Linked DNA regions of Homo sapiens: region 1 is linked to region 2. The links come from fine-mapping of genetic effects on gene expression. Tissue or cell type: whole blood. Region 2 holds a variant in brackets; the other region holds the start of a gene. All regions are shown on one strand. Distances are from middle to middle.

Region 1 (5,000 bases), 130 kb before region 2:
TGCACTTGTTACTCTAAGAAATCCCTAACCCAGGACTCGCTCAGAATATTTCGAACGCAGAATTAAGCATCTTTATCGCAGGCGAAATAAGCCGATACTTATTCCGCTTAAGTCCGAACTTGCTATGCAGAGAAACCACAATCAGGGCTACATTCCGAGTGTAGGAGGTTTAAAACTCCCGAAAAGGCAGTCAAAGCAGGCAGGGCCAAGCCGGACCTGCTGTGCCTACCCGAATTGCTAAACCCAGTTGTGGTACCATTAAGTAACTGGTAGTTCTCTTATAAGCCAAGCTAAACTGTTCCAAAGAAAAAGACGCTGGAAACACTGCTAGCCCTGAGACCCATGAATAAGTAGTCTTTTCAATTATTTATTTATTTTGAGACAGGCTCTCGCTCTGCTGGAGGGCGTTGGTGCTATCCGGCTCACCGCAGCCTCGACCTCCTGAGCTCAAGCAACCCGCCCACCCCAGCCTCCGGAGCAGCTGGGACTACAGGTGCACACCATCTCACAGGGCTAACTTTTGCATTTTTTGTAGACACAGGCCTCACCCTGTCGCCCAGGCTTTTCTCAAACTCCTGAGCTCAAGCAATCCGCATGCCTCCGCTGCTGAAAGTGCTGGGATTACTGCCGTGAGCCACGCTGCCCCGCCAGAATAAGTAATCTTAAGAACTGGTCATCTGTGAAGTTGTATTAATATAAGTAATTGCGTGGTCCTTCCACGAGAAATAGCAAAGATTGATAAACCTCTCAGTCTTATGATCGTGAATAAAATTCCTGAGTGTAAAACAATGAATCGATATACTGAAAAAAAGAAAGACCGCTGTTAAAAATAAAATTAACAATTAAAATTAAAAAGACGTTATAATAACGTAAAAGACATGATATAAAATTAAATGTAAACAAACAATACATTTAAAAAGCAATAATTAGAAAAATAGTAGGAATAAGATTTTAAAATACAATGGAAAAAAACAAATTTTAAATTTGCCAAAAACTCTAAGAATTCTACAATCGTAAAATAGATTTCTCAAAGTGAAAACAGATACGAATGAAATATTTAATGAAATAAATACAAATATTTAAAATACAAGGAAACTGAAAGTAATAAGCGACGCGAAACAAGAAAGAAACATAAGGGAAAAAGAGAATTTAAAAACTGACAACCAGCAATGAAAGCACATCTTAATGTATTTTTATTTTCTAGGTGGAGACGTTTGGTAACTGAGAATCTTTTCAAGGAGGAGAATCCAAAAAGCCTTCTGCTGCTATCTAAGGCTGCTTAGCTCCACAGATCCGTGAACAGCACGCCCAGAGTACAGAGAACGCGGCAAAACCAACGCGAAGAATCCACTCCAGGCAGTCTGAGAAACCCGGGAGGTGGCGCCACGGCTGGAGGGCAGGAGGATGGCGGCGTTCCAAAAGGCACCCGCTGTCACAGACCTCGGTGTCCTGCTGTCTGTCCCAGGGATGGAGAGGACTGCTCCAGGGAAGCTGCTGGAGCCTGAGTCTGTCGGGTTCCTCTGCCTGCCCCACCTCTTCTACGGGTGCCTCTTGCTGCTTCTGTGTCCCCGGCCAACTGAACTCAGTGGGCTTCGCTGTACTTGGTTCCAAGGTGCTCTGGACTCCAGGAGAGAGTCCGTTTTGCCAGTAGACTCCGGGCAGCCGCCAGCAAGGGCTGGAAAGCAGTCCCAAATCACAGCTGTCCAGTGAGTACTCTCCTAGTACTGGATACAAAGGAAGAGGCCACGGCCCACGATCTTCTGAACTCACAATAGGTGGAGGCTGGGGCTCTGGCGCCACCTCTGCGGAATCCCAAGCCCGCTTCACACAGCCAAGAAAATGTTGCTCCATCCCTCAAGCCTCAGACCAACGTTTGCGCTGATCAAGGAGGGAGAGTCTCTGCACTACCATCAGCCTGAGTATTTATGCTCTGCAGAGCCCGTGGGCGGAGGCCAGTCAGATATTAAGAAACTCAGTAGTAACAAATGCACGAAAATTAGTAGACAAATGAAAAACGATAACATTTTAGAGAGTACATAGAACCAAAACGAACCGTAATTCCGACAGAAAAACATGGCGAGAAAAGAAACCGAAATGAAATGACACTAAGCAAATCTTGAAGAGAACTAGCGCTACAGAACGCAGGTATTCAAGAGCGCGCAAGGGCCAAGAACCACCCGTTTCCGGGAAATGAGCGTTGCTGCCACCGGAAAACTGTCTGCTAGGGCTCTGCCCTAACCACCTTGCAAACGAGAAACTGGCGCGTTGAACTTAGCAAGCGCCGGCACCTAGCGGATAGCGCTGGTATTGCCAAACAAATATCCGTTTTGGCGCCGTAAAGGGTGCTGCTAAAGAGAAACAGCATGCTCTTAGAACTAAGAGCGGTGCTTCCACACCTAAACAACCTGTTTGGAGGAATGAACCAACTCTGTTTCAATGTGTTGTACCAGAAAAATGTGTTGCGGCATTTAATGTGTTTTAATCCGTTCAATGTGTTTGATAGGTTTAATATGTTTTAACCCGTTTTAATGGGTTGTGACAGAAAAAGCGCCGGCTAATGGTACCACACAATTACTAGTGCGAACAGCGGCTCGGTGCAATCACCGTTCTGCACGGCAAAACGGGGTTCAGGAAGTTCCTAGGAGATACTAGCGGTTGTAGGAGCGAAAAAGTGACAGCACTGAGAACCTAAGGACCCCGCGAACGGGAAATGTCACGTTGGGTGCAGCAACTGAGAAAACGCCCAGTGGGCGCCACTGGCAAACGTGCTGATACAAAACCGCCAGCTCTGCATAGGAAGCGGAGCCTCCAGACAGAACCCGGAACCTGATACCAGCGAGGCTAAGACCGAGCTCGGCTCCCCGGCTCCTGAGAGAATGAAAGTCAAGAAGCACGAATCTGAGACGCTCAAAATTAGAAGAAAAAAAAAATACATAATTTAAAATAATGAAAGTCTGAAATGCAAGTAAAAATGAAAAACACATCGGTAACATTGTCCTCAGAGCAAGACACAAAAATAATTTTAAGGTAAGCAAAAGTTACAGAGAACCAACCCTACAAAGAAGAAATTACAAATATGGCTAAGCGATGCAATGCCTACCATTAGAATATTTCTGTCAGATCTAAACCCCTGCAGGTTGCTCCTGTCATAATTTCCTACGAGAAAAAAAACAAAAATATCCACGGTTAAACGTGTTTAGCTACGTCTAAAAAATCGTAGTAGCTGGTACATCCCGATTTGGTCTACAAGAGGAAAAAGTCTCGATGGGCAGGACTTGCTATTGTCAAAGGGAGCTTGGTAAAACTGAGACATCGCGATCGCCGGCATTTCCTGACTTCCACGGGAGTTTTAAAAACACACAAGCATAGCTAAGACAGGACTCGATATTGCGAAACCAAACTTGGTATAAGAGCTCCCAACACTGCTAAACTGGTCATCGCTAAACCTTTAAAAAAAAAAAAAAAGCATTCGCTGGTACCCAGATTTCCACAGGAGTTAAACATTTCCTGCGCAGCTAAAGCAAGTCTTACCAGTAGGAAACCGGAACTTGCTAGGACTAAGAAACTTGAGGCTAGGCTGACCCCATGGTTGTTATGATTAGAAATCCGAGGCCACTGGAAACCCGGAGCTGCTGACCAACGAGTCACAGGGTAACTTCGCCTTCGCATGGGGAAACGGGTGAGTTCCTACGGCCTAGATATCGCAGCCAGGGCTAGACCGGTGTTTGTCTTAAGTCAGGACTTGCTTGGGCTGAGAAAATACATTTTGGCTATTCCCCTACTTGGACAGAGGGTGGAAATCCCAGGCACCGCGAAATCGAAACTTGCTAGGACTAAGAAGCCAACGACGCGCGAAACCGTGGGGTCCTGCGACAGAGACGCCGGCGGCGCCGCCACAGGACTGCGTTCTGGAGGCCGAGCCGGAACCCGTGCGGCGGCGCTGGGAAGAGACTGTGCCCCTGCAGCTCCCCTGTCACCGGCTCCAAGGAGCGTCGGGCTCCCCCCGCCCAGCCCTGCAGCACCCATCCGGCAACGCCAGACTCGGCGCAACGGGGGCAGCTGCGACTTTAAATCTCTCAGATCCGCGGCCTGAGGGCTGCCGCCACCGAGAAATGGAGGCACAGAGCTGTGAACAAGAGACCACGGCTCGCCGAAATGGCGGTGCCAGGAGCCTGAAAGGGAATGCAGCCGGCGGGGTTGTCAAGGACAACATTTGTTTTGGCGCAACCAGCGGTGCCGTCACCAAGAAACCGTCGACTCTGAGAAAAAAAGAGAAGTTCGGCTACCGAGAAACTCCGTGCAGCAAGTGCTGTGACAGCAAAACCGCCGGCTTCGCGCCGCTGGCGAAAGAGCCAACGGAAACGCCGGGTGCTGCGACCGCGAAGCCGGCACTAGAGGGCCTCGGATGGAGAAAGCCCCGCACCGAGACGAGGAAACTGTGCACAGCACGACTAGCAGTTGACACAAACAGAAAAGTGTCTCGTCTGCTCTCTGGGAGAAAGCGTGGATCAAAACCAGCAACTCAGTGGAGAGAACCCCGCAGCCACTGAAGAAGTTGCCCACGTGGCGGTGGGGCCAGAGAAACACCGCGATTTCGACGACAGCCGTAGGGATACCACAGAGAAACATGCGCGGCCACAGAAGTACATCCAGCTCCGCGCAATCAGTGGTTCTGCGATCCAGAAACCGCCAGCTGGGCTAGACTAGAAACTTCTAAAAAACTGTCGTCCCATAGCAGCTTTCCTAACCACGACAGACAGTCGCCTTTAGAGAGCACCTAACGGTGCTGAGACCGGCCTGGGCCAGCAAAAGCGCAGAGCGGTGCCAGTGCCAAGAAACGCCCGACTTGGTGAAACCAACCTTGTGACCACCGATTCCACTGGCTTCGCAGGACGCAACGGGCGAAGGCGCGGCGGAGAAACCGCAGGCTCCCTTCACCGATTATGCTGCGGGCTGGGGATGGTGGGGGGCACCCGCGAAATTGTGAAACCAGCGGCGCT
Region 2 (6,148 bases):
CTCTCTCAACCTTCATAGAATTGAAGAAAGGGCCTTGTTCTTGGTTAGGCTTTGGCTAAAGGGAATGTTTGTTTCGTTTAATCTTTTATCCAGGTTACTCACTCTTTCTTCATAAGCAGTAAGGCAATTTTGCTTTCTTACCATTCATATGTTCATTAGTGTAGCACTTTTAATTTCCTTAGAGAACTTTACCTTTTCAGTCACAACTTAACTACCTGGCATAGGAGACCTGGCTTTCGGCCTGTCTCGACTTTTGATATGCCTTGCTCTCACAGGCTTCATCACTTCTGCCTTTTGATTTGAAGTGAGAGACAAGTGACTCTTTTTTTTTTTTTGGAGACAGAGTCTTGCTCTGTCGCCCAGGCTGGAGTGCAGTCATGCGATCTCGGCTCACTGCAAGCTCTGCCTCCTGGGTTCACGCCATTCTCCTACCTCAGCCTCCCAAATAGCTGGGACTACAGGTGCCCGCTACCATGCCTGGCTAATTTTTTGTATTTTTAGTAGAGACAGGGTTTCACCGTGTTGGCCAGGATGGTCTCGATCTCTTGACCTCGTGATCCACCCCCCTCGGCCTCCCAAAGTGCTGGATTACAGGCACGAGCCACCATGCCCAGCCGTGACCCTTTTTTTTGACACGGGGTCTCGCTCTGTCGCCCAGACTGGAGTGCAGTGGCGTGATCTCGGCTCACTGCAACCTCTGCCTCCCGGGTTCAAGCAGTTCTCTGCCTCAGCCTCCCGAGTAGCTGGGATTACAGGCACCCAACACCAGGCCTGGCTGATTTTTTTTTGTATTTTTTAGTAGAGACGGGGTTTCACCATCTTGGCCAGGCTGGTCTTGAACTCCTGAGCTCGTGATCCACCCGCCTCAGCCTCCCAGAGTGCTGGGATTACAGGCATGAGCCACCGCATCCGGGTGAGACACGTGACTTTCACTTAAACACTTAGAGGCTGTTGTAAGGTTATTAATTGATCTGATTTCAATATTGTTGCCTCTCAAGGAATAGAGAGACTAGAGGAGAGAGGGAGGGAAGAGAGAAAAGCTGGTTGGTGGAATAGTCAGGATGCATACAACATTTATCAGTTAAGCTCTTTGTTATGGGTGTGGGTTCAGGGCACCCCAAAACAATTGAAGTAGTAACATCAAAGATCACTGATCACAGATCATTATAAGACATAATTTAAAAATTTAAATTTAAATTTGAAATATTGCAGTAATTACAGTGACAGACGTGAGGTGAGTACATGCTGTTGGGGAAAATGGCAGCGATAAACTTGCTTTACACGGGGTTGTCACAAATCTTCAGTTTTTCAAAAAGTCCAATAAAGTAAAGCACAATAAAATTAGGTCTGTAAGCAGTTTTAAACTATGTTTAAGTTAATAAAAAATGGATCATTTTTCCTTGTAACAAACTGTGAAGACAGGAGACAGTCCTCTTCCTGTTTCTTATTCTCAAAACGTATATACCCCATTAGTTTCATATTTTGCATATTTTTATTAGTTTAATGGTTTGGTTTCTTGTATGTTCATAAAGCATGCACTGTAATCTGTGGCTTGATTTGTAAAATTTTAGCTATTTTTTGTCCTCTGAATTTATTTTTATTTGGAAAATAGTAATGATAATGCCATATACCACTAGGCCATGAATATAAAACAGTGTCAGTGTCCCTGCCTTCAAGGAGCTCAGGATATGCTGGCAGGGGACAAGCATGTGCAATCTGTGTAACATGTTAAGTGCTGACCAAAGTAAGCAGAATCCTGTGGGAATGCCTGCCTGGGTTGCTTGTTTGTGATGGAAGAGACAAAGGTGATATCTTAGTCTGTTCTGTTGCTTATAACAATACCTGAAACTGGAGAATTTATAAAGAAAAGGAATTTATTTCTTACAGTTCTGGATGCTAAGAAGTTCACTGTTATGAGGCCACATCTGGTGAGAGCCCTGCCAGTGGCGACTCTGCAGAGTCCTGAGGCCATGCAGGGCATCACATGGTGAGGGAGTTGAGCATGCTAGCTCAGGTTTCTCTTACTCTTCTTTTAAAGCCACCCATCCCATTCCCATGATAACCCATTAATTCATTGATCCATGAATGGATTAATCTCTTCATGAGGGCAGAGCCCTCATGATCCTATCACCTCTTAAAGGTCCTACCTCTCAATACTACCATATTGGGGTTTCGGTATTAACCTGAGTTTTGAAGGGGACAAACATTCAAACTATAGCAGGTGGCTTCTGGGGGTCATTACCCTTTGATGACTCAGAAAGGAAAAGGAGTTAGCCTCGAAACAGGTATTCCAGGCAAAGGAAATGAAACATACACAGTCACAGAGGAATGAGAGGAAACAAATTGTTTGGATCACTGTTAATAGGGCATTATGGCCAGAGGGTTAGGTCCAATTAGAGGAATGCCAGGAGATGTGGCCAAAGGGGTTGGAAGGGCTAACCATGTGGCATGCACTTGGCCATCATATGGGAGATCTAGAGTGGAGTAAGGGTAAGAAAGAGGGAGAGTAATGAGAGATGAGTTTGAGATCATGTAGTTATTTTCATAAATTCCATAAATGAGTTTGAATAATATCTTGGAAGACTGGGTCATTTTAAAGGAGTTTCAGCCAGGCAGAGATCTCATCAGATTGATATTCTAGAGAGATGACTGGCAAGATAGATTGGAGTGGGTTGAAACCTGCTAGCTCAGTGAGGAATCTTGGAGTCGTCCAAACCAGAATGGGAGGTTGGGTAAAGGCAGTGTTAGCGGAAAAGAGAGATTTGAGTAACATTAGGTAGCCTGGATCAATAGGATTTGGTGGTCGGTGAGGTGCAGGAGTAAAAGAGCTGGTGACTCCCAGCTTTCTGATGTAGATGGCTGTTTGATTGGAGGCTAATTAACTTAGAAAAAAATACGTAGATGAGTAAACAGATGGGGAAGGAGGGAAATACCAGACATGTTGACAGATA[C/T]ACCTGTGGGACACAGTGTCAAAGAGAACCTAGAGGTAACCTTTAGCCATGTTTTCAAACAATTACTCCCTAGTTTCCAAGAAAAGTAGTGTGGAATCATAGAGGGAATGTGTGTCCAGAAATCAGAATTTCAGTTCCATCTCCAGTTCAGCATTTGCCAGCATGATGAACTTGACCAGTCACTTTATCTTTGGGCTTTTCTTGTCTGTGTAAATAAGGATAAAGATACCTACTTTATAGGGTTGTGACAAATAAGAAAATGATGAAAGCGCATTGAAAACTGTACTGTCCACACATCTAAAATAATTAATATGTTTCTATTTCTACATTTTACTGAGTTTACTTAATTTTTTAAATAGGAAAAAGCTCAGATGGCACACAATGAAAATTGAGTCTCGTTTCTACTCAGGTAGATCTCTTGAAGTAACTACTGCTATCCTTTTCTGATTTATCAGATACATTCCTTGCATTTTCAGGTAGCCATAGACGCTCAGGTACGCATGCTTTTGGGAAAACAAGCGAGCATGCGGTAGTACGGCATTATGCCATTTAATTTATCTTGTCATTTTAAAAAATATATGGAACATTTATGAGTATTTAAATTTTCTTCCTGTGGCTGCACAGTATTTTAATCTATGGGTATATCATCAACTACTATTGATGAACATTTAGGTTGTTGCTAGGCTTTTGGTATTACAGACTATGCTGTAGTAAGCATACTTGTACATATGCCTTTTCATATGTTCAAGTAATTTCATTTTTAAGAGCAGAATTGCCAGGTCAAAGAATATGCACTTTTTTCTTTTTTTTTTTTTGAGACAGAGTCTGGCACTATCACCCAGACTGGAGTGCAATGGCGTGATCTAGGCTCACTGCAACCTCCGTCTTCTGGTTTCAAGCAATTCTCCTGCCTCAGCCTCCCGAGTAGCTGGGCTTACAGGCACCCGCCGCCACGCCTGGCTAATTTTTTGTATTTTTAGTAGAGACGGGGTTTCACTATGTTGGCCAGGCTGGTCTCAAACTCCTGACCTTGTGATCTGCCTGCCTCATCCTCCCTAATAATATGCACATTTTATATCTTGACAAAGATTATCAAATTGTCATTTAAGGAGAGGCTTTGCCAATTTGTTTCCAGGTCTCACTGATAATGAAAAATTATTCATTGATAAAACCACTAAACCATTTAGTGATATTGCCCATCATTTTGGGAGTTGAAAAGAGTTTCTGTATTACACTAATTCCAGCTAATTAGGTCTTTTCTCTCAAATTAACTTTTCATCACATAAAAATTGTACAAAATAAGCTATAAATGTTTTGTCAGATAATACATATAGCTCAGTTACTTGACTGTGTCATTCTATTTAAGCGTGAGGCTCACATCTAGGACCTCCTCATTACTGGGGCTCCACCTTCCATCCTGGAATCATTCAGTTATTTACTCCTACCTGCTGGTTGCTGAGGACTGCTGGAGGAAATTCATATCTCAAACCTTAAGCACTTCAGTGTCTGATTTATCCCTTTTTCCTAATTGCTATTTCAGAGCTTCTCCATATATTCAAGACCTCTGTCCACACCCCATCTCCAGCAGATTACTTATCTTCCAACCCCCAACTTACCTGTAACAGCATTCATCTTTGTCCCCTTTTTTTTTTTTTTTGAGACGGAGTCTCACTCGGTCACCCAGGCTGGAGTGCAGTGGTGCAATCTCGGCTCACTGCAACCTCCGCCTCCCAGGTTCAAGTGATTCTCCTGCCTCAGCCTCCCAAGTAGCTGGGACTACAGGCGCCTGCCACCATGCCCAGCTAATTTTTTTTTTTTTTTTTAGTAGAGATGGGGTTTTACCATATTGACCAGGCTGATCTCGAACTCCTGACCTTATGATCCACCCGACTCAGTCTCCCAAAGTGCTGGGATTACAGGTGTGATGACTGCACCCGGCGATTTTTTAAATTTTTTTTTAAATTTTTTTGAGACAGAGTCTCGCTCTGTCGCCCAGGCTGGAGTGCAATGGCCTGTTCTCGGCTCACTGCAACCCCTGCCTCCTGGGTTCAAGTGATTCTCGTACCTCAGCCTCCCAAGTAGCTGGGATTACAGGTGCCTGCCACCACCCCCAGCTAATTATTTTTTTATTTCTAGTAGAGACAGGGTTTCACTATGTTGGTCAGGCTGGTCTCCAACTCCTGACCTCACGTGATCCACCCGCCTCGGTCTCCCAAAGTGCTAGGATCACAGGTGTGAGCCACCGCACCTGGTCTGTCCCCTCTTCTTTTATTCTAGAGAAAGAGGTTTCCCTTTTCTTCAAAGCCAATTCTGGATCCCATGCCTTGATGTCCCTCTAAAACCATGTCCCATCTATCATTCCATCTCCTTTCTCCATTGCCTCTTTGCCCATCAACAAATAAATAATGGATGTCCCTCCTGGCTTAAAGAATCCTGTTATTGGCTGGGCACGGTGGATCACTTGAGGTCAGGAGTTCAGGACCAGTCTCACTAACATGGTGAAACTCTGAGCTGAGATCATGCCATTGCACTCCAGCCTAGGCAACAAGAGCGAAACTCCGTCTGAAAAAAAAGAATGCTATTATTGACATGCTCCCCTCTAGGTAGTCATCTCTCTTGTAGGCCATTTTATTTATTTATTTTTTTTGAGATGGAGTCTCGCTCTGTCGCCCAAGCTAGAGTACAGTGGTGTGATCTCAGCCTACTGCAACTTCTGCCTCACCGGTTCAAGCAGTTCTGTCTCAGCCTCCCAGGTAGCTGGGACTACAGGCTCGTGCCAGCATGCCCAGCTAATTTTTGTATTTTTGGTAGAGTCGGAGATTCGCAGTGTTGGCCAGGCTGGTCTTGAACTCCTGACCTCAAGTGATCCACCCACCTCGGCCTCCCAAAGTGCTGGGATTACGGGTGTGAGCCACCGCCCCGGGCCAGCCGTTTTATTTTTAAATAGAGATGGGGTCTCACTATGTTGCCCAGGCTGTTCCCGTCAAGCAATCCTTCTGCCTTGGCCTCCCAAAGTGCTGCTGGGATTACAGGCATAAGCCACCATGTTTGGCCTTGTAGGCCTTCTTAAAGGAATTTTGGTAATGACTGTTTTCATTGTCATCCTTCTCACTCACTCTTGCCCCATGGCAGTGGGCCTTCTGATCCAATTACATCACTGGTTAAAGTCATTTCCTTGTTTTCTTTACTTCTACTTC

The links. PIP is the estimated chance that this variant, and not a neighbour inherited with it, causes the effect.
Region 1: ANXA2R starts here. The variant in region 2 is fine-mapped to the expression of ANXA2R in whole blood (TOPMed, PIP 0.95).

What each region holds. Positions count from the first base shown.
Region 1 is chr5:43,038,196-43,043,195 of GRCh38, forward strand. ANXA2R (annexin A2 receptor) reads right to left here and starts at 2,124. Exons shown (of 1, transcript NM_001014279.3): 1 at 1,176-2,124. The coding sequence starts at 1,851. The coding sequence ends at 1,270. The region is part of intron 2 of ANXA2R-OT1 (ANXA2R overlapping transcript 1); the gene reads right to left. It overlaps ANXA2R-AS1 (ANXA2R antisense RNA 1), which reads left to right and starts at 3,939. Exons shown (of 2, transcript NR_015447.1): 1 at 3,939-5,000. RefSeq lists enhancers at 1,006-1,546, 1,238-1,287, 1,308-1,717, 1,728-1,777, 3,433-3,512 and 4 more and a silencer at 2,118-2,387.
Region 2 is chr5:43,166,043-43,172,190 of GRCh38, forward strand. All of the region lies in intron 5 of ZNF131 (zinc finger protein 131), which reads left to right. Among named protein-coding and RNA genes, the nearest start is that of NIM1K, 23 kb to the right of the region's middle. The variant C/T (reference allele first, on the strand shown) is at 2,952.